Homo sapiens: one gene and its partners. The protein of the gene in region 2 interacts with the protein of the main gene of each other region in a pairwise test. Each region holds a gene or a part of one and is shown on either strand. Other genes may lie near its edges.

Region 1 (3,758 bases), on a different chromosome or scaffold from region 2:
TGGTACATGCCTGTAATCCCAGCACTTTGGGAGGCCAAGGCAGGTAGACCACTTGATGTCAGGAGTTTGAGACCAGCCTGGCTGACATGGTGAAACCCCGTCTCTACTAAAAAAAAAAATACAAAAATTAGCTAGGTGTGGTAGCGCATGCCTGTAATCCCAACTACTCGGGAAGCTGAGGCAGGACAATCACTTGAACCCAGGAGGCAGATCTTGCAGTAAGCAGAGATTGTGCCACTGCACTCCAGCCCAGGTGAAAGAGTGAGACTCTGTCTCAAAAAAAAAAAAAAACAGCTTTGTGTTTTGACTCTGATTCTTAATTTTGACTGCTTTTCCACCTATCTGGCCAAAAGTTTAAAATGGAATCTTATGCTGACTTCGTTCAGTTAATAAAATATTTGGAATACTAATAAATGTTTAATTTCAATAGGTTATAATAAAATCTTAAATATGCAGGCAACTCTGCTACAATGTAATATGTATTTCTGCATAACGTATTTTTGAAAAACCCATTTCCAGAAGATCATACATTGAAAACAACATAGGAATTACAAGAAAAGGAGTGTTAGGTTTGGCTGCTCAAAACCTATGTAACTTAATAACCAGAGCACAGGCTGGGCATGGTGGCTCACACGTGTAATCCCAGCGCTTTGGGAGGCTGAGGCGGGCAGATTACCTGAGGTCGGGAGTTCGAGACCAGCCTGGCCAACATGGAGAAACCCTGTCTCTACTAAAAATACAAAAATTAGCCGGGTATGGTGGTGGACACCTGTAATCCCAGCTACTCTCAGCAGGCAGAGGCAGGAAAATCGCTTGAACCCAGGAGGTGGAGGTTGCAGTGAACCAAGATCACACCACTGCACTCCAGCCTGGGTGACACAGCAAGACTCTGTCTCAAACAAAACAAAACAAAACAAAACAAAAAAACCACAGCACAAACAAAAAACAAAAACAATTATTACGACTTCCTGGCACAAAACAGGGGCAGGAGGAAATTGTATTTTATTTCCCTGTTTACCAGTTGTGAATGAGCTTATTTCCCATTCAGAAAAATATGTTTAGAACAAGGGGAAAAATGTCTATTACTTTTAATAAAAGTGCCAGAGTGTAGAATTTAAATGGCCTTAAATGAATAAAAAATATTACATGGTGTCCAAAGACATTAGGACTCACTCAAAGTGCAAAAAGCTTATTTTATTTCCAACTTTTATTTTAGTTCAAGGAGTACACATGCAGATTTGCTACCTGGGTATACTGAATGATGCTGAAGTTTGGGGTACACATGAACCTGTTACCCAGGTACTGAGCACAGAACTCAACAGTTAAGTTTTTCAACCAAAAGGTGTATTTAAAAAGTCACTACTATTTAACTAAAATGATAGAGAACTGCTAATATTTATATAGTGCTTGAAGTTTAAGTTAGTATCTAAAAGTAAGCATATGTCATATCACAACTTGGTCCCAAACAAGTTGGGGAAAAAAGAAGGAAAGCATACATTGTACCTTTGTTCTTCAGTTTTGATATGCAAAGCTCACAGTGAAAAGACTGGATGTTCATACACCCGGTTCTAGTCCAATTTCCACTTCTAATTAGCTATGCTACATTTGACAAGATGCTAACTCATGAGTTTCATTCACTAAACAATTATGCACCTTAACTGCAAGATTATTGAGTTGACTTATCTGAAAATCTCATAGTTGTCTGAAGATGAAATGAAATAATTTATGTGAAAATGTAAAACTTAAACATAGGCGGGGCGCAGTGGCTTATGGCTGTCATCCCAGTACTTTGGGAGGCCGAGGCAGGTGGATCACGAGGTCAGGAGTTCGAGACTAGGCTGGACAACATGGTGAAACCCTATCTCTACTAAAGACACACACACAAAAAAAAATTAGCTGGGCGTGGTGGCACATGCCTGTAATCCCAGCTACTTGGGAGGCTGAGGCAGAAGAATTGCTTCAACCTGGGAGGTGGAGGTTGCAGTGAGCCAAGATCACACCATTGCACTCCAGCATGGGCGACAGGGCGAGACTCTGTCTCAAAAAACAAACAAACAAACAAACAAACAAACAAAAAAACACACCAAAAACTTAAACATAAAAAATGGTACCTACTTAAGCAACTATATAACTTTGTCTTAATTATCTAGGGACAATTCTTCCCTAGATGAAAAAGGAAAACATATTTATATACACAGCTGCTCATAAATTAAAATTCAAAGTCACTGCCTAAAATTGAGATTTTTTACAAGGATTCTATAAAAGACTGAAAAATATCATTTTAAAATTGGTTAGGTACATAGCTGTTTATCACTTCCTCTTCACAAAAGCACACACAAAAAAACCCACTGACCTTGAAGCTACAATAAAAAAATCCTATGTTTTCAGATGGCCATTAAAACTTTTTTTTTTAACATTTAAAAACCCACTAATAGTACTTAAGGTACACAAGAGGTAGAGTTTCTTACTTGGATTTGGCTGCAATAACACTTCAGTTTGTTTCATTATTTTTTCTGTCCATATTTTGGTACATTCAGCTTTGCTAAGGAGGTTCTCTAAGTGAGCATCCAATTCTGTCTTCTCAGCCTGGCCAAGCTTTTCTTCTGTGAACTGTTATTGATTGTAAAACAAAAATTAAATATACTGCAAATAAATTTTAGGGAACCATATCAATAAGTAAAAAGCAAATTCAAAGCTAAACAATCCTAAACATACAAATAACCATGCTCCAGCTTTGTAAGCCATTGCTTATGAATACTTTTTTTTGCTCCTATGGTAATTTATCCATACTTCTTTTGTGGATGACCCTACCTTACAGTCATCACATACCCTTAGTTCTGCTAAAATGTATGGTGTGAATTCTACAGAAAACCTAAGTATACTTCTTGGTATATAAAGCATGCAACTATTTCAACTACCTATCCTAGGTAGACTAGGATAACGGTAAAGAGTAAGAGCTTTGAGTCAGTTGAATCTGAATTCAAATCTTAACTTTGTTCCTTGCTGTGTGAGCTGAGCAATGTATTGAATATTTTTTCTTTAGTACCCTCTATTATAAAAGAGAGACAATACATATTTTATAGTGTTTGGGGGATTAAGTATGATTGTGTATGCAAATCACTTTGTTTGGTGCCTTGTAATTATTAAGTTTTGAAAGAGCTGTTAATGTTTATTGTGGTTTATGTCTTATTAGCACTTTAATCACACCTAGTTAGATAAATAGTTTCCCAGAACATACCATAAAACCTGTCATTTAAGCTGCTGAGGATATGTTCCAGCAATTTATTTATAGACTAACTTTTGGAACATATCCTATTCATACTATGAAGACATCTTTTAAAGGTCATAAAATGTGGTTAAACGTACTCAATGAATCAATTTTTATTATTGAATATACTGGTATTTGAGAAAAGGTAGCACTGCCTATATAATAATAAAGCAGTAAAAAGATTCTGTGTAGATCTACAGCCTTCTGGATACTTTTAATTAAACATTAGAGGTGATGACTCAAGCTGTTTATCATGCATCATTTTCCTCTAGAATATGTGGCTTCCTCCCATCTTAACACAGGTATATCACTAGCATTAATTCTGTGCTCAGTAATGACTCACTTCTGGCTGACAAAACAGTGTTCACCTTGCCTTTCTCTCCTTTCGTTTCTCAAAAATCTCGTTTGCTACTCTATTTTCTGAGTTTTATTGTTTCTTTCAGCATCCTTCTTCTTGGTTTAATACTTTCAGGTTATTATCAACACCTTA
Region 2 (3,758 bases):
CCCCTCTCTTCCATTTCTCTCCTTTTCCTGGGAGATAAATTATAGGCAGTAACAGAGTGCTTCGCACGTTTGGGGGTGTTGATACCCTAGGTTTTCAAGTTACAATCAAAAGCTGGGTAAAGGAATGAGAGATCCCCTTGGTGGTTCAATGTCACAGGCAAGGTGAAACAGGAACAACAGAATTCACTTTATTGACTCTTGATGTGTAGATTTTCATTACAGGCAGGTAATGAAAGCTCAATGCCATGTCTCTCACATAATATTATAAGAAAAATAGAAGAACAGCTAAGGACATTTTTCCCCCCACTGGTGACCACTTTATTAGGAAGAGAAAAATAGCAAAACAACTAGATATAGAGAAAATAAATCGAATGCCATAATAATGCTGAAAATAGTGGCTAAGTACAATTGACAAATTAGATCACATGCCGTAGATAATGAAAAGGAGCATTATGTTTGCTGTGAACTTTGCAGAGTTCACAGGAGAGAGATGTTTCTGAAAAGGTACACATAACTATTTTTAAACTAAACTGAATTATATTTTAAACACACTAGGTGAGGCATCAATTTAAGTAAATATTGGTCAACTACAGGTGCCAGAGATAATCATTCATGCTTTGTAAATGCTAATCTGTAAACTTCATGGTAAAGATGTCCATCTAGAAACCATAATAGACAGTTATCGTGATTTTCTTAAATTACAGCAAAAGCATATTTAGTGTATTTAATGGGTCCTTTGAAGATAGAAAGACTTATATTATCAGTGTTTTGTAAAAATGGGATTATAAACTGCTCTGGTTAAAATAATTAAATTTGGAGAGGCTGTATTAAAAAAAAAAACTATGGTAGGAAGAAGTTCTAAAAAGCAGCTGTGTACCAAATTCTATATTCCTTTGCAACTTATGTTACAAACATGAATACTGACTAGCTTTAAATCAGACATGTCAAGGTTTGAATCCAAATCCGATCTCTCAGTTACTAGCTGTGTGTCCTTGGACACATTACTTACATTATTTATGTCCCACTTAATCATCTGTAAAGTGGGATTAATAAGCCCTTCTTCACCATTTGTTTATTTTTGGTTAGCATTAAATGGAAAATATGTAAAGCAGCTGATATATCAAATGCATAATAGTAATATACTTTCCAATTATGTTAAACATTTTTAGAACAATCTGAATTTCTTAGTTGTCACAGAAAAGTGAATGAAATATCAATAAGCAGAATGATCACAAATACAAACACCTATGTAATCACAATCAGGTTGAGAAATAGAGTATCACCAGCACACAACCTCCTTCCATGCTCCACCCAATCAATTCTGTTTACTTCCAGTAATAAAGCCCTTTCCCAATCGTATCATTGTAGCTTTTTGCCTGTTTTTGAACTTTATATACATGAAATCACACAATACAACTGGTGTTTCAAGCAGTGCATTATGTTTGTGATAATCATCCATGTCGTTGCATACAGCTCTAGCCTGTCAATTTTCACTATCTGAATATACCACAGTTTATTATCCAATCTGTTACTAATGAACACTTAGGTTTGAGGCTCTTATAAATAATGCCGCTATGAATGTTCTCATATGTCTGCCAGCTTTTATTTTTAAGTAGATTTTTCTTAAGTGATAACCATAGGGCATGGAAGATACAATATGTCTAAAATTCTAGAAGTATATGATTATGCAATTGCTTGCTAAAAGCTTTTGAAGAGAAGTATCAGATTTTGAAGATAACTAACATATATTATAGATATATTTACGTTGTACCACATGTGAGAAATTATTATGTAAGAGAGGACTTGCTATTTAAAATCAACACATAACTAGTGGGAGTGTTTAGAAGCTCTGTAGACCCTAATGAAAAATCAACAAGGCTGAAAATATTTGTAAAAATTTCAGAGAGCTGTTGAGAAATGGCACACAATACAAGAACTAAGTAACAGCACTTGTACCTCCTCCCTTTTCCTCTCTCAGTCAGCATGGAGGCTTTCAGTGAAAAATAAGGTTCAATTCAAAAACATGAAATCAGTACTCAGATTTTATTGCTTGAGGAAAAAAAAGTCTATTTTTTTAAAGTAAATTTTCCATTAAAAGCACTGCAAATTTTAGCCTCTAATGAGATTGGAGTCAGTTGACTTGGCTTTAAATATTGCCTCTTCCATTTTCCAGCTTCTGTTACTAGCCATTGTGAGCTTCAGTTTCTTCATCTGCAAAATGGGCATAATACAATCTATTCTTGCCACATCAAGGGATTGTTGTAAGTATCAAATAAGATGATACTGTAAACTTTGTAACCAAAAAGACACTATAGATATATTATTATATTTGAATATTAAATGGAGGTTAGCATCTATTAAGTGTTTACTTTAGGCTAGATCTTGTTTAGAGTGCTGCTACCTAAGTCAGCCCATTCAGTCTTCAGAACAACACTCTGAAGTTAATTATAATGATGATAAAGCAACTGCTTATTATGGTGATTATTTTTCATGAGTTATTTGTGTCAGAAGCCAGAATTTTAATATAAATCTGATTTCAAAACATTTTCCTATATCACCCTATTTATGAATTGTGGCACTTCCACACTTAAGAGGCGGAATGATGTGCCTGGATTGGAGATCAGGACCCAATCTGCAATTATCTAGCTTATTTTCCCACACACACCCCAACCATATTCTTCTTTTATAAAATAAGAGAGTAAGATTAAAGAATATCCTTAAATCTAGAAGGCTTCTGAATCTCCCCAGTTTGGGATTAAGTAGCAAGAAGGACATCATGAAATGAAAAGTATTGTGGAAAAGGGATACATTCAAATTCATGAGTTATTTCATGACTAGTATTAATTCAAACTAGATACTAATAAAATGTATTCAAGGGTATTCCTGACTGACTCACTTTAAAAAAATCTAATATATGGTGCATTTAATGTATAGTCAGTAATGTCATTTTCATAATAAATATTTCAAATGACATCTTTATAAAGAATGCGTTTTCTTAAATAGATTGAAGAAATCAGCCAGCTCTACATGGTCTATATTTACAATATTTTTAAAATGTTATTTAACAGTTCATATACATGTTTTAAATATACGTGTATGTGTGAGTGGGTGGGTTTTTATGGTTTTCTTCCACCTTTTCCCAAGCTAAATGGTCTTTGAAATAGCAGTGTGTGGCTTGAGGAAGTTTTTGCATGGCATTTCCCTAGAAGCAAGGAAGGAAGAAAGATTACGTGGAAAGCAGTACTCAATGGCACTAATTTAAGTACATAATCCAAAATAAGCAATTTTGGAATAAAAATATGATATTACCATCTCTATATTATGTCTAGATTTTTATCACTTTAAAATATATAGATCCATTTAAAAACTCAGAGTATTTTATTTAAGGAATTCAAATTATGGTTATTTTCTTTCAGATTCCTTTAAAAAAAAACCAATACCAAAGAAGCCTACAATGTTGGCCTTAGCCAAAATTCTGTTGATTTCAACGTTGTTTTATTCACTTCTATCGGGGAGCCATGGAAAAGAAAATCAAGACATAAACACAACACAGAACATTGCAGAAGTTTTTAAAACAATGGAAAATAAACCTATTTCTTTGGAAAGTGAAGCAAACTTAAACTCAGATAAAGAAAATATAACCACCTCAAATCTCAAGGCGAGTCATTCCCCTCCTTTGAATCTACCCAACAACAGCCACGGAATAACAGATTTCTCCAGTAACTCATCAGCAGAGCATTCTTTGGGCAGTCTAAAAC
Region 3 (3,758 bases), on a different chromosome or scaffold from region 2:
AAATACATGCAAATAACAAGATTTTCTTACCTCTCAGTTGTTGAAACACTTTGCTTCTTAAAATTGATATGTTGAAACTTTAATTCTTTTATCAATCCCAGCATTTTGAGATCAGTCTTTATTAATAAAACCTGTTCTCTTTAATCAGCTTAAAATCCAAAGTGTCATATTTACTGGTCCTGGAGACAAACTTGTTCAAAAGAACATCAACGTGCAATGTTTTAAGGTCTATCTTAAGAAGCCCTGGCCAAATTTTGATCCTAACCTTGAAGTATGCCTTGAACTTATTAACATGGCCATTATAAGAATAAAATATGTAGTTGTGTCTTAATGGAATTAATAAATGTCATTTCACTACTGGTGTTCTGTTTCAATGTATAAGGACTATAGTGATTTAAACTCATCAATGTGCCTTTGCATAAAGTTCATTAAATAAATATTGATGTGGTATAAATGCCCATCAGATATGCTTAAACTTGGTTTTCAGTTGAATGAAGTAGAGAATGTCCTCAGGACCATCAGCATTTTAAAGGTTATGTGACTTTTGCTGATTTCTCTGAGTTCAAGTTAAGCATGAAGTTAGTACCTCAAGCCTGTGATTTTTCCCTAGGGATGATACAGACCCAAGAGGCTACAACAGAACTTAAACTGGCTTCGTAATTAGAGTTTTTAAGATAATTGTTTGTTTTTCAGCAATATAGACTGAAAAGATCCAAGCATATTTAGCCACTTGCTTTTTTGTTTCTTGTTTTGTTCTTCTTTGGATGCCTGATTAGTATTGAAAGATAGAAATATTCTATGAACTAATTAGGACAGATTGTGTTGTGTTTCTCTACCTCATCTTGTTGATCTCTGGAGCATTAAAATCTATTTAGTGTTGTCATCAGTGTGGTACTTATGAAATGTAAGCTAACAGCAATCTCAGAAGGGAGGCAGTGAAGCATAGCAACTAGGCTCTTGTTTCTTCAAGATGGCCCCTGTGGGGCAGTGCATAGATGGGGGTGTAAAGAGAAGCTGTTGGCATTAAAATGAGCTAGATAATCAGCCCTTGTTGAAGCATATTCCATGGTATAAGAGTAGCACAGACATGAAACATAGATAAAGAAGGAAGGCTTAATAGACTAGAAGACTTCCACATTGAAGTATTATTAACCCATTGTATGTATATAGGGGCATGATCAGAGTCTCTATAACTTCCTGATTAACAATACAGTGTATCTTGTTACCCAGCTGTCAGTCTTTGAGAGCTTTCAGTAAAATATAGTAAATTCTTTCAGCATAGGCTAATGTGTGGTTACTGAGATGAGTGTTGTGTACTCAGAACCGTAGCAACATTTTTATGAATGGTAAAAGTACAAGAGGAGGAAAAGTTAAAATTAGAAGAAAAGTACAAGTTATTGCTTAATCATAAATCACACCAGATAACACATTTTGTTAATTTCATTAGCTATTACTGGAAAGGACCTTAACGATTATTTACAGAAAGGGGAGTGAAATTCATTGAGGTTCCATATCAAGTGGGCAACAAAACTATTACTAGCATTTTGATAAAAATTGCCCCTAATGAAATCTAGTCACTCAACAGTAAAACAACAGCTGGTTTACACTTGAAATTATGAGATCAGAATTGGGCACTTTGGGCTTCCGTACTATGTTTTGCTTAAGTTTTTTTTTTAATACTAATATGGGCTTTTTCAGTAGTAATATACCAAAACACTTCTATTTTAATCTCTGTTTGCTACTTCAAAACCTAATCCTCCTCAGATGGGATCATGAGCATAAGAGGAAAAGAGAAGAGAATGAATACTTGTTGACCTCTTGATGTGTATCAGATGCTTTAGAAATGTAATTGTATTTAATCCTCAAATACCTTATAGGTATTATTATCCCCTTCTTACAGATGAGGAAAGTGAGGCCCAGTTTAAATAACTTGCCCAAGGTCCTTTGGCTAGTACTGGAAGGAGTCAAGATTTAAACACAGTTCTGTCTGAATCCAGAACTCAAAATCTACATTGCACATGTTGCTTTCCTGGTGGTTCGGTGGAATGGACTGCAACGCATTAGATACTGCTGTTATTCTTCCAGGCCACCGCTCAGCTAAAAATAATTGTGTGTGTGTGTATATATATATATATGTACACACACACACATATATATACACACACACATATATATACACATATACATATATATACACATATATATACACACACATATATATGTATATATATACTACATTCTTGATCCTAAGTCTTTTTTAACTTAAATTTTATTACTTATACAGAATTCTTATTTATACTTTAATTATAGGTGTGACGAAGAGAAAGAGAGTAGGGAAATACACAGGCAGTGGTTTTAAGTGTAGATGATGGCTCCTTAACCCAGTGTCATTAGATAATCAAACCTAAAGTCTTCCCATATTAGGCAAGCGCAATTCTCTATTTTGGACCCTTCCCATTCTTCCCTTACCTTCTGCTTTTCGTACTGAGGAATTTCGTGTGATTTTAGATAAAGTGATAATGAGATATTGAGCAAATAAGAAAATAGAGGTAATGCTATAAAAAACTAAGCTATGTACACTTTCAAAATGCATGTTTCTTGCATGCTTTTTACTACTTAATTGCATTCTTTGCTAATTTCCTTTCCTTGCTGTCTGTTCTTTTCTAACAGCTGAAGAATGTTCTGCTGACTCTGACCTCAACTTTCTTATTCCTGTTGCAGTGGGTGTGGCCTTGGGCTTCCTTATAATTGTTGTCTTTATCTCTTATATGATTGGAAGAAGGAAAAGTCGTACTGGTTATCAGTCTGTGTAATCAGTTAAATCTAGTGTTTGTTTGTTTTTTTCAATTAGAAGTTACGTTTCCATTGGCTAAAAGCCAGGACATGCTGTGCAATAGATTGTTTAAGATATGCAGACTAACTTCAGTGAGTTCCTAGCTAACTTGGGCATGAGTACACTTATTTAAGACAAAATATATTAGGACCAATTTTTTTCTGTTTTTTTTCTTCCTTTGTTAAAGTATAATTAAAAGAAAAATTGTGGCTTAGAATTTTTTAAGTAAATAATGATTTTAAGCCCCTGGATCCAATTATGAAAGCATTTTTGCTGATGTGTAATTTTATATGTTACAGTTACTTATATTTTACTACTTTGATGTTATTTGCAAAATCAAAGGTGTTAAAGAATTTAACTTGCTTCAGGAAATAAATTCAAGAACATAGTGGATTCATTTTCATTGGTGGCAGACACGAAATTTGGTTCATGATAAGACTTCCTTTCCCCACCTCCTGATCAGCATTATTTAAATCTGTATTTTTCTGTTAGTTAAGAAAGAAATGGCTTCATGATATTGTATTTAATAGCAAAAGTTTGGCTGTCTTCTTCATTACTGTTAATAGCTACTATATTTTAACAAGGAGATTTCTTTTTTTGTTGTTGTTGTTCTAGAGTTTGGAATATACTGATTATCTCAGACTTGACATTTATACTGAAGGATGAAGTAAGACCTCCAGCTTTTTTTAAAAAAGGTGTTGATTTGGAACACCTGTATGGGTTATGGTTTATTAAGGTTATGGTTTAGAAAGTTTTTTTCCCTCAGAGCCTTAACTTGTTAAGAAGGTTCATTTATCCTGCACTGAAAACAAAAACTCTATATACTTTGTTTGTGTGCCTCCTGCACTCTCCCATTCCCTATGTGAATATGCTCTAGTTGATATTTTTAATATATTGATTTCTTTTTTCTCACAGCAACAAGTGC

Evidence for each region.
Region 1: the proteins of MUC15 (region 2) and SH3GLB1 interact in binary tests that used the Homo sapiens proteins (3 or more experiments, as listed by UniProt).
Region 3: the proteins of MUC15 (region 2) and LAMP2 interact in binary tests that used the Homo sapiens proteins (3 or more experiments, as listed by UniProt).

The regions. Positions count from the first base shown.
Region 1 is NC_000001.11:86,714,576-86,718,333, reverse strand, and holds part of SH3GLB1 (endophilin-B1), read right to left. Parts: intron 2,611-3,758; coding exon 2,469-2,610; intron 1-2,468. UniProt on the Homo sapiens protein: May be required for normal outer mitochondrial membrane dynamics. Required for coatomer-mediated retrograde transport in certain cells. May recruit other proteins to membranes with high curvature. May promote membrane fusion.
Region 2 is NC_000011.10:26,565,555-26,569,312, reverse strand, and holds part of MUC15 (mucin-15), read left to right. Parts: intron 1-2,173; 5' UTR 2,174-2,218; coding exon 2,219-2,261; intron 2,262-3,416; coding exon 3,417-3,758. UniProt on the Homo sapiens protein: May play a role in the cell adhesion to the extracellular matrix.
Region 3 is NC_000023.11:120,427,539-120,431,296, reverse strand, and holds part of LAMP2 (lysosome-associated membrane glycoprotein 2 isoform A precursor), read left to right. Parts: 3' UTR 1-2,670; coding exon of another isoform or gene 2,671-2,813; 3' UTR 2,814-3,758. UniProt on the Homo sapiens protein: Lysosomal membrane glycoprotein which plays an important role in lysosome biogenesis, lysosomal pH regulation and autophagy.